2 linked regions of the Homo sapiens genome follow. The protein of the gene in region 2 interacts with the protein of the main gene of each other region in a pairwise test. Each region holds a gene or a part of one and is shown on either strand. Other genes may lie near its edges.

What was found.
Region 1: the proteins of PRR5-ARHGAP8 (region 2) and CYGB interact in a two-hybrid assay, tested with the Homo sapiens proteins (one large-scale study listed by BioGRID).

The regions. Positions count from the first base shown.
Region 1 is NC_000017.11:76,527,710-76,531,510, forward strand, and holds part of CYGB (cytoglobin), read right to left. Parts: coding exon 3,751-3,801; intron 3,434-3,750; coding exon 3,270-3,433; intron 2,313-3,269; coding exon of another isoform or gene 2,243-2,312; exon of another isoform or gene 909-2,242; intron 903-908; coding exon 869-902; 3' UTR 1-868. UniProt on the Homo sapiens protein: Probable multifunctional globin with a hexacoordinated heme iron required for the catalysis of various reactions depending on redox condition of the cell as well as oxygen availability.
Region 2 is NC_000022.11:44,700,809-44,705,254, reverse strand, and holds the start of PRR5-ARHGAP8 (PRR5-ARHGAP8 fusion protein), read right to left. Parts: upstream 3,052-4,446; 5' UTR 2,781-3,051; coding exon 2,647-2,780; intron 1-2,646. Other genes in the region: PRR5 (proline-rich protein 5), read right to left, coding at 2,647-2,763.

The sequences.
Region 1 (3,801 bases), on a different chromosome or scaffold from region 2:
GGGGCTGCCCTGGTGGCCAAGGCAGGTGGAGCTAGCGGTCGAGGTTTCTGGACTGAGGCCCCTCCCCCAGTGCGGTCATCCCACCCAGAACTTCGCTCTGCCCCTGCCCATTCTAGGACAGCCGGTGAGTCAGTTCCTCTGAGGGAGTAGGGGGAGCCCACTCCTTTCTGCCTGGAAGTGGAATTCAGGAATGTGGGGAGCTGGTCTGAGAAGGGGCTGGGCTTTGCCGCCAAGCCGGGTTGCCCCAGCCCTGCCCCTCCAGGCCCAGGTCCTCTGCGCTGCTGTGGGATTTCCTCTTTGCCAGAACACTCTGTTCTCTGCACAACCGGAACCCCTCCCTGCCCCACTCACAGGTGGGCCAAACCGAGGCTTCTGGGCGCCGCGGATACACATTCTAGATATGTATGTGTGTATATATATATGTATATATATATTTATATATAGCTCGTATATAGAATATATCTGTATATATGGTAGATGTGTGCGTGATACTCTAGATGGTGATGTGGAGACCTGCATGCTGGCCGGGCTGATAGAAACGGGGCTGGTTTATTCCCTAAGGGACTCCTAGACCTGTCCCGCTTCCTGCCAGCCGCTCAGCTAGGTCTCTCTCTAACAGTGAGTAGAAAAGCTAAGAAGAGTGGGCCCCGCTCTGCCCGCCGCGCTGGGGTCAGCATCCAGGCAGCCAGCGCCGCCTCCCAGCAGCTCCAGGGGGGGACCCTGGCCGCCACAGAGGCCTCCTTCGGGGAAGTTGAGTCAGGGATTCCTCCAGCTTCCTTGGCACCCAGAAATGGAGCGTCAAGGAGGGTCTTCAGAACTCGGCCTTCTGCTCGAGGTGCTGCCAGGGAGGGGGGTGGAGTTAGGGGTCCTACGGCCCCGAAGAGGGCAGTGTGGCCGGTGGGCTGTGGACGAGATAGGAAGGGAAGGACAAACGTTACCAGAGGCAGGGAAGGACCCTCGGGGGAAAGGGGGAGGACCTGGGGCTGGCGAGGCTCACTTCCTGCCAAGAGATCCGGCACAGTGCAGTTGAAAGCAACCGTGAGACCCAAGTTCTAGTCTCCGTCCTGCTACGAACGTGCTGTGTGATCTCAGGCAAGTCTACTGGCCCATGGGAGCTCCGGATCTTTTTCTCTAAAATGTGAATAATGTCTGTCTTGTGACATAAACTGGGTAAAAAAGTGTTTCACAAACTGCAAAGCACGATACCAATGTGAGCTCTTTTTCCATTAATTCTGAAACGTGGCGCATTCTGTCCGGCCTGTCTCGTCCCTCCTCGGGCCACCCATCTGTATTCTCGTATTCTCGGTACACACAGCGCCCCCTGCAGTCATTGCGCCCCCCCCCCACCCCCCACCCACGCAAAGGCGCACACCCTGGAGCAGAGACGGCTCAATAAACAGTGGCGCCTGGCCCACCCCTGCTTCCCTGATAAGAGAAGTTGGGCGAGGGCCTTCTAGGACTCTACTCTGTAACTCCATCCTACCCTCGAGCCCATGGGGACCCTGGCAGCAGGGAGGCTCTGCAGGCTCAGGCCAGGGACACTAGGGGTGGGCTAGAGGGTGTAAAGGGATGAGGGGACCACCCCACCACTTGACAGCTGGGAGTAACCCCCATGGGGTGCCAGTTTCCACGGTAGCCCATCTCCATTCAGTCCACAAGGAGCAGAAGTGGGCGGAGGAGGAGACTTCGGCCGTTTCAAAATGTTTGGGGTTTGGAGAGATCTTAGTCCCTAGGGCAGGGTGGGGAGGGCAGGACGGGCAGCGTGCTGGGGAACTTGGGCCATGTGTTTCTGATTCACTGGGGCTCGCGCCCAGCCAGCTCTCTTTCCAGTCTCTCTTGGCCCTTGTAAAAAAGCCCTTTTCTCTGGAAGCAGGAAGTCTTGTGTCCTGGCTGTAAACAAACTCATCTTTGGCAGCAGAGCCTGCGTGGGGAGAGGGGTGGGAGGGCAGGCAAGCCCCCTCCCCTCCTCTTCCCCTGTCTTTTCCCTGGACCCTCTGGGTGACAGCTGGTGGGGGGTGAGGGGGCAACCACTGCTCTCCACGCCCTGCCAGTGCCCTCCTCTGGTGGGCCAACATCTGCTTGTTTCCCATTGACTCCCAGGTCTCAGGCAGGCCAGGGCCCAGCTGTGCACATCTGGAGTTGGCTTGGCTCCAGCCAGCAGTTCCCGAGGACTCCACTCTCTTGGGGTGGTGCTGACGGGAGAGGGGGGAGGGGAGCAGGAGCCAGCCCGGGGCCAGTGTGGTCAGCAGCAGGAAGGGCAGGAGGCCTGGCGTCCCCAGCTGCCCTCAGGGGACCTCCTCCAGGAGCTGTGCCTGTGAACAGAAGGGCCGGCAGTCTTGGGGGCCCGTGCAGAGCCCGGCGGGAGACGCCGCCTTTTCCATGGGAAACTGCTGGGAATGTTTCTCTACCACGGGAATGTTTCTCTACCACGCGTGTCCCGGGCTGCTGGCTGACCTCTGCTTCCCATTCCCGCCTCCGCTCCTCTCCTCCTTCCTACTCCAGCCCTGCCTCCGCCTCTCCATTCAGCTCCCAGAGTCAGCCTCCCCTTGGGGGCCCAGGGAGGCCGAGTGTTCCCAACCGCCACATCTGGGGGCTAGCCCTCCCCTCACGCTCCGAGTCAGCAGGAGTCACAGAGGGCGGCCACCCTCCTTGAGCCACCTCCTGGGCCCAGAACTGGAAGCCCAGCCTCCAGGTCAGCCTGGAAGTAAACATGCCCCTGCTCGTGTGCGTGTGAGCGACACCCATGTAGCTTCCTCGTGGGCTGGGGTGTGTGTGTGTGTGTATGTGTCCTCGTGATCCTCCGGGCTCTAGCCCTATTGAGGCAGAGGGCATTTAGCAGCACTGGTCGGCATGAGATGAAAAAACAGCCCCTTGTGATTGGCACCCAGGGAGGAAGTGGCTGGGCTGACCTGGGCTGCCTCCGAGCCTGATGATCGGACCTTACCGCCAGGAGCCTCTGGCGCCTCTCTGCCTGGGCAGCTGTGGCTTTGGGTGCTCTGAGCTCTCCCTGGCTCTAGGGAAGGGGAAGGCTCTTTGGGAGGATTTTTGCTCAGGGCTCATGGCTCTGAGCAGCCTGAAGTCACAGGGGAGCCATCTTGAAGGCCTTTCCTATTATGCCTGTTCTTACATGTCAGACCCCAGGGTTGGCCTGCCTCAAGTGTGCCTGCCCAGGTGATCAGCCCCAGGGCCTCAGGAGATATGGGAGACCTCGGGGACAGCAGAGGACATGGCGGGGAGGCTGCCCAGCCCACCCTCGCCCGCCTCCTCACGTGGTGGCGTTGGGGACCTGCTGCACCCAGCCCACTTCCTTGTAGGCAGCGGTCACGTGGCTGTAGATGAGGCCACGCAGCTTGGCCCAGGCTCTCTGCGTCTCAGGTGGGAAGTCACTGGCAAATTCCTCGGCGACCACCTCCAGAATGACCCCAGAGAGGATCTGGGGGCAAAGGGAGGAAGGGGGAGTGAACGCCCGGGCGCCCTGCGTCCTGCAACCCCCAGGCCCCTCCGCCCCACGTGTGGCCGAGAGGATCATTCCTAACGCAACAGTCTGGCAGCTTTGGGAACCCCGTGCTCTCAGGACAAGGGTTGCCCTGGACCCAGCCCCTCCATCCTGCTGCCGGGCACTGCCCCTCCCTCTCGCAGCCACTCCGGGGATCACCTCTGTTGCTCCAGAGAGCCGTCGCAGAGCCTGCGAGCTGCAGATGGCCATGACGCGTGGGCGGTGGGGGCTCTGCAGCAGATGGGGGCGCATACCTTGAAGTACACCGGTTCCACCTTGTGCTTGAGGGCGTGGGCTTTCCCCAC
Region 2 (4,446 bases):
CAGCCACAAGCCAAAGAGCCACCAGAAGCTTCAAGAAGCTCCTCCCCTAGAGCCTCTGGTGGGAGCGACACCTGGACTTCAAGCTTCTGGCTCCAGAACTGTGAGGGAACAAATTTCTGCTGTTTTAGGCCACCGAGTTTGTGGTCTTTGTTACAGCAGCTCTGGGAAGCTAATACAGTCACACAGATAAAAGGGGGTGTGTCTTGGACTCATAATGAGGAGTACACGGCCAGGCCCTGCAGAATGACACGCCTGTCCCCGACCCTGCACAGATCTGTTGTCCTAGGGGGCCCTGGCAGGGAGCACCGCTAGGAGCAGGAGCATGCAGACAGGGACCAGAAGGGGTGCCCTGCTCCCTGCAGTTTCCACTCAGGGACTTGGCTGGTGAAGCCAGTTTGCCTTCTCTTGGCTCCATCTCCCACATCTGCTGGGGAGGAGAGCTGGGGCGCAGGCTCTGCTGCATCCTGTGCAGGTGATGGATGAGCTGGGCATGTCTCCTGGGTGCTCTCTCTGCCCTTCTGCATCTCTCGGTGGGGGGTGCTGGTAATACCTCGCTGGGCTAGGAGAGTGGCAAAGTCAGTTAAGGGCAGTGAACGGGGCTGGCCTGGGGCCTGGCACATAAGAGGAGTGCAGGAAATGGCCGTGCCCCTGCTGCCTGGGGTGGTGGGAGCTGATGTAGGCCTAAGGGCTGGGAGACCTGGAGCCCTGCAGGTGCCGCGGGGAGGGGCTGGCATTTCTCTGCAATCTGCCAGGCTGCTGAGTGAAATCTGGTGGGGCGGGGGTTGCTCAGGCAGAGTCCCCCTGAGGCCTCCCTGAACTCTGAGAAGACACTTGAGACTCAGAGCCCACTCCAGGGTCACCCAAGGTTGGGTGAGGGCAGTGTCTAAGCCAGCAACCAGCCAGTGCCCCCACCTGTCTGGGGACCCGCAGCAGGACGCCCCACCTCGGGGGTGGGAGGGAGCTCACCAAGTGGCTGTCAGTGGGTGCTCAGGAACTGACTGATTCCTGTGGAGCCCTCCAAATGCCATCCCTACAGGGACACCCCGACACTGGTCCACTGCGTGAGTCTGGGGTTGAGCTGTGAGGTACAGAGGACTTACTATGTGCTAAGCACTGTGTTGAGGGCTTTATTTTGCATGTTCAAATTTCATCCCTACAACAGCCCCATGAGGTGGGCACTGTTATCTGCCCGTTTTATGGATAAGGAAATTGAGGACCTGACTTGCTCAAGACCACAGAGTAGGGAAGAGGCAGAGTTGGGATTTGAAATAAGTCTATTTAACTCTTTCCTCTAAATCACGGCAGAGATTCAAGGACAGAGAGATGGCTTTCATCTCAATACTGGAGGAGAACACTGCTCTTCTTTTTTTTTGAGATAGGGTCTTGCTCTGTCACCGAGGCTGGAGTGCAGTGGTGGCATCATGGCTCATGGCAGCCTCGACTTCCCTGGCTCAAGTAATCCTCCCATCTTGGCCTCCCAAAGTGCTAGGATTACAGGTGTGAGCCGCCGTGCCTGGTGGAGAACACAGCTCTTAAGACACTGTGCAGTCGTTGGGTCAGGGAGATTTCCCAACAGGAGTCCTTCCTTCACTGTTCCCACACCAGCCCTCCCCACAGGGAGGAATGCGAATACCCACTGACGGAGAGGGAAACGGAGGCAGGCATGTGACAGCCCTCTAGCAGTTTGCAACTCAGAGACAGAAGAGACCACGTTTGAAGAGGGTCTCGCTGGCAGCCCTGAGCCCACCATGACGCTCACAATGCATTCAATGAACTGAAAATAACGTGTGTCCAAGTGACAGCCGGGTTCCCGGTGGCCAAGACCACAGCCGGTGGAGCATCTGGCAAGATTTTACTGCCAGGTGTGGGCGCGAGAGGGGCAACGTCCACAGCCTCCCCCGAACAGTGTCCACAGCCTCCCCCGAACAGTGTCCACTGCCTCCCGCGAACAGCCTGCCTCACTTTCTCCTGCCTCTCATTTTCCTAGGGAGCAGAGACGCTGGGGAGTTCCACTAAATAAACCGTCTCTTTTCCAGATCCCGGACTTGCTCCTCAAACAAAGCTGGGAGAAGGGGCTTCCCAGGCCCCTGCTTGTCTGGGAATGACCCCTGGAGGAGAGTCCTCTAAAGAATGCCTCGCAGCTGCCGCACCCCCTGCTGACAGCTGGAGGACAGGGGGCCTCTCAAGGGAAAGCCGAAGGGAGCTTAAAGAGACACAGGAAGCCTGCGCGACCCACCCACTGAGCCCCGAGGCTCCCGTGCTCAGCCGCAAAATGGGAAAAATACTTCCTGCTCCGTTAGCCTCCCAGGTTGTCACGAGCACCGCAGTGGAGACGTGGAAAGACCCCGGGTAGGAGGCGGGCACGCGGCTTCCCGGCCCACCCCGCCGCCCACCCGCCGGGCGCTTCTGGGCCAGCCCCGGGCGCTGGCGGGCCTCGCTCCCTTCCCTGGGTTCTGGAACCACGCTGCACTGAACTTTCCTCCAGGCCCGCACCACTCCGGCGGGGCAAGTTCTTTGCAAACTGTGAAGCGCCGCGCCGCCTTCGGCAGCGTTCCTGGCTCGGGGCGGCCCCTAGCCCGCGGACGGCTCAGGGGTCCCCTCCCCCGGCTCCAGGGCCTCCGGGTGGCCGGGAGGGCGCGGCCTTACCTGTTCCAGGTGGCGTTGGCGCAGGCCCGGCGCTGCTGCGTGCCCCGCTCGTCCGCGGCGGCGGCCGGCTCTCTCTTGCCCAGGTCACTGAGGCTGGGCGAACTCATGAACTTCAACCTGCGGAGAGTCCTCATGGTGACCCGGGCCGCCTGCGCCGCGCCCACGCGCGCCCCACGCCGCGCCCTGCGCCACGCCGCACCAAGGGCCCCGGGCCGGCGATGCGCCCTCTACGCGGAAACTCCGGCGAGAGCAGGAAGCCGAGCGGTCCTGCGGGGTCCCGCCCCGGCCCCGCGCCTCCGTCTCGGGTCCCGCGCCGGCCGCCCCGCCGGGTTAATCATTGCACGGAGAGGCTCAGCGTGGAGCGCCAGGCGCGCGGCCAGCACAGACCCGGCGCAAACGGAGGCCGGGGGCGGACCCGGGGGCGGGCCCAGGGGCGGGTCTCGGCGCCCCGGGGGGCGGGGCGGGGAAGGGGGCGGGGGCATCGCGGGCGGGGCGGGGCCTCAGGCGAGGGGGCGTGTGCAAGAGGCGGAGCCGGCGTCTCCGCGGCCGCAGCTGCCACGACGCCTCGCTGGGTCTGCCCTCTGAGGACGTGCTCACCCTCCTCCCCTCTTCCGAGGGCCCCACGTGCCCACAGGAAACCAACACGCACAGGACGCAGGGCCCAAGCCCAAGCGCCCGCCCCCCGCCCAGCACTGCGGTCGCGCCCACACGATGTCCTTCGACCCCGGCCCCGGAGGTCTCCCTCCACAGCCCTCCTCGCAAAGGCTGTGCCACAGAGGTGCCTCCGTACCCCTCACCTGAACACAGGCTCCCCCACCCAGTTCTCATGAGGACTTTGGGTAGAGGCCTTCAGTCCCCTCCAGGCACCTTGGCCCAAGAACCCACTCCACCCGGGCTCAGCCTAGACCCCCTTGGACAGGGACTTCAGCATTGCCTGGCTGCCTGGAGGATTTGCTGGAGTGAGGGCTTGAAGAAGTAGAGGGTTTGCTCCTTATCTCCCACCCCCAGGTCTCTTGGATGGTAAAACCAAGCAGTTTCCCAAGTCCCTGTGGTGGGGGCAGAGTGATCCCAGTGAAGGCAGGGCACAGCCGGTGCTTCCTGCCTGCTTCGCAGAGCACTTTTAGATGTCTGATTTCACATGAACTAACATGAACTACTTCCGTGAGGTAGAGATTATTCTTCTCCCCATTTTCCAGTTGAGGACATTGAGGCTCACAGAGTGAAATAACTTGCCCAACATTGTGCCAACATTGTGCAATCAACAAATGGTAGAGTTGGGCTTCACCACAGGGAGCGTCCAGCCCCTTGAACAGGGCCCTTCCCAGTCCCCAGCTTCTGGGATTCCCACAAGGCTCACCTGACCCCTCCATCAGATGGGGGGTGACAGCCACAGCTCCAGGAGCTGGGAGGGCCCCATATAAAATGTAAGAGAGAGGTGATGGCTCATGCCTGTAATCCCAGCACTTTGGGAGGCCGAGGTGGGAGGATCACCTGAGGTCAGGAGTTCAAGACCAGCCCGGCCAACATGGAGAAACCCCATCTCTATTAAAAATACAAAATTAGCTGGGCGTGGTGGTGCATGCCCGTAATCCCAGCTACTCAGGAGGCTGAGACAGGAGAATCGCTTGAACCTGGGAGGCAGAGGTTGCAGAGAGCTGAGATCTCGCCACTGCACTCCAGCCTGGGCAACAACAGCAAAACTCCGTCTCAAAAATCATCATCATCATAATAAAATAAAATAAAAAGTAAGAGAGCCTCATGAAGAGTCTTTGTTTAGTGCAAATCAACCAGTGTCTCCTG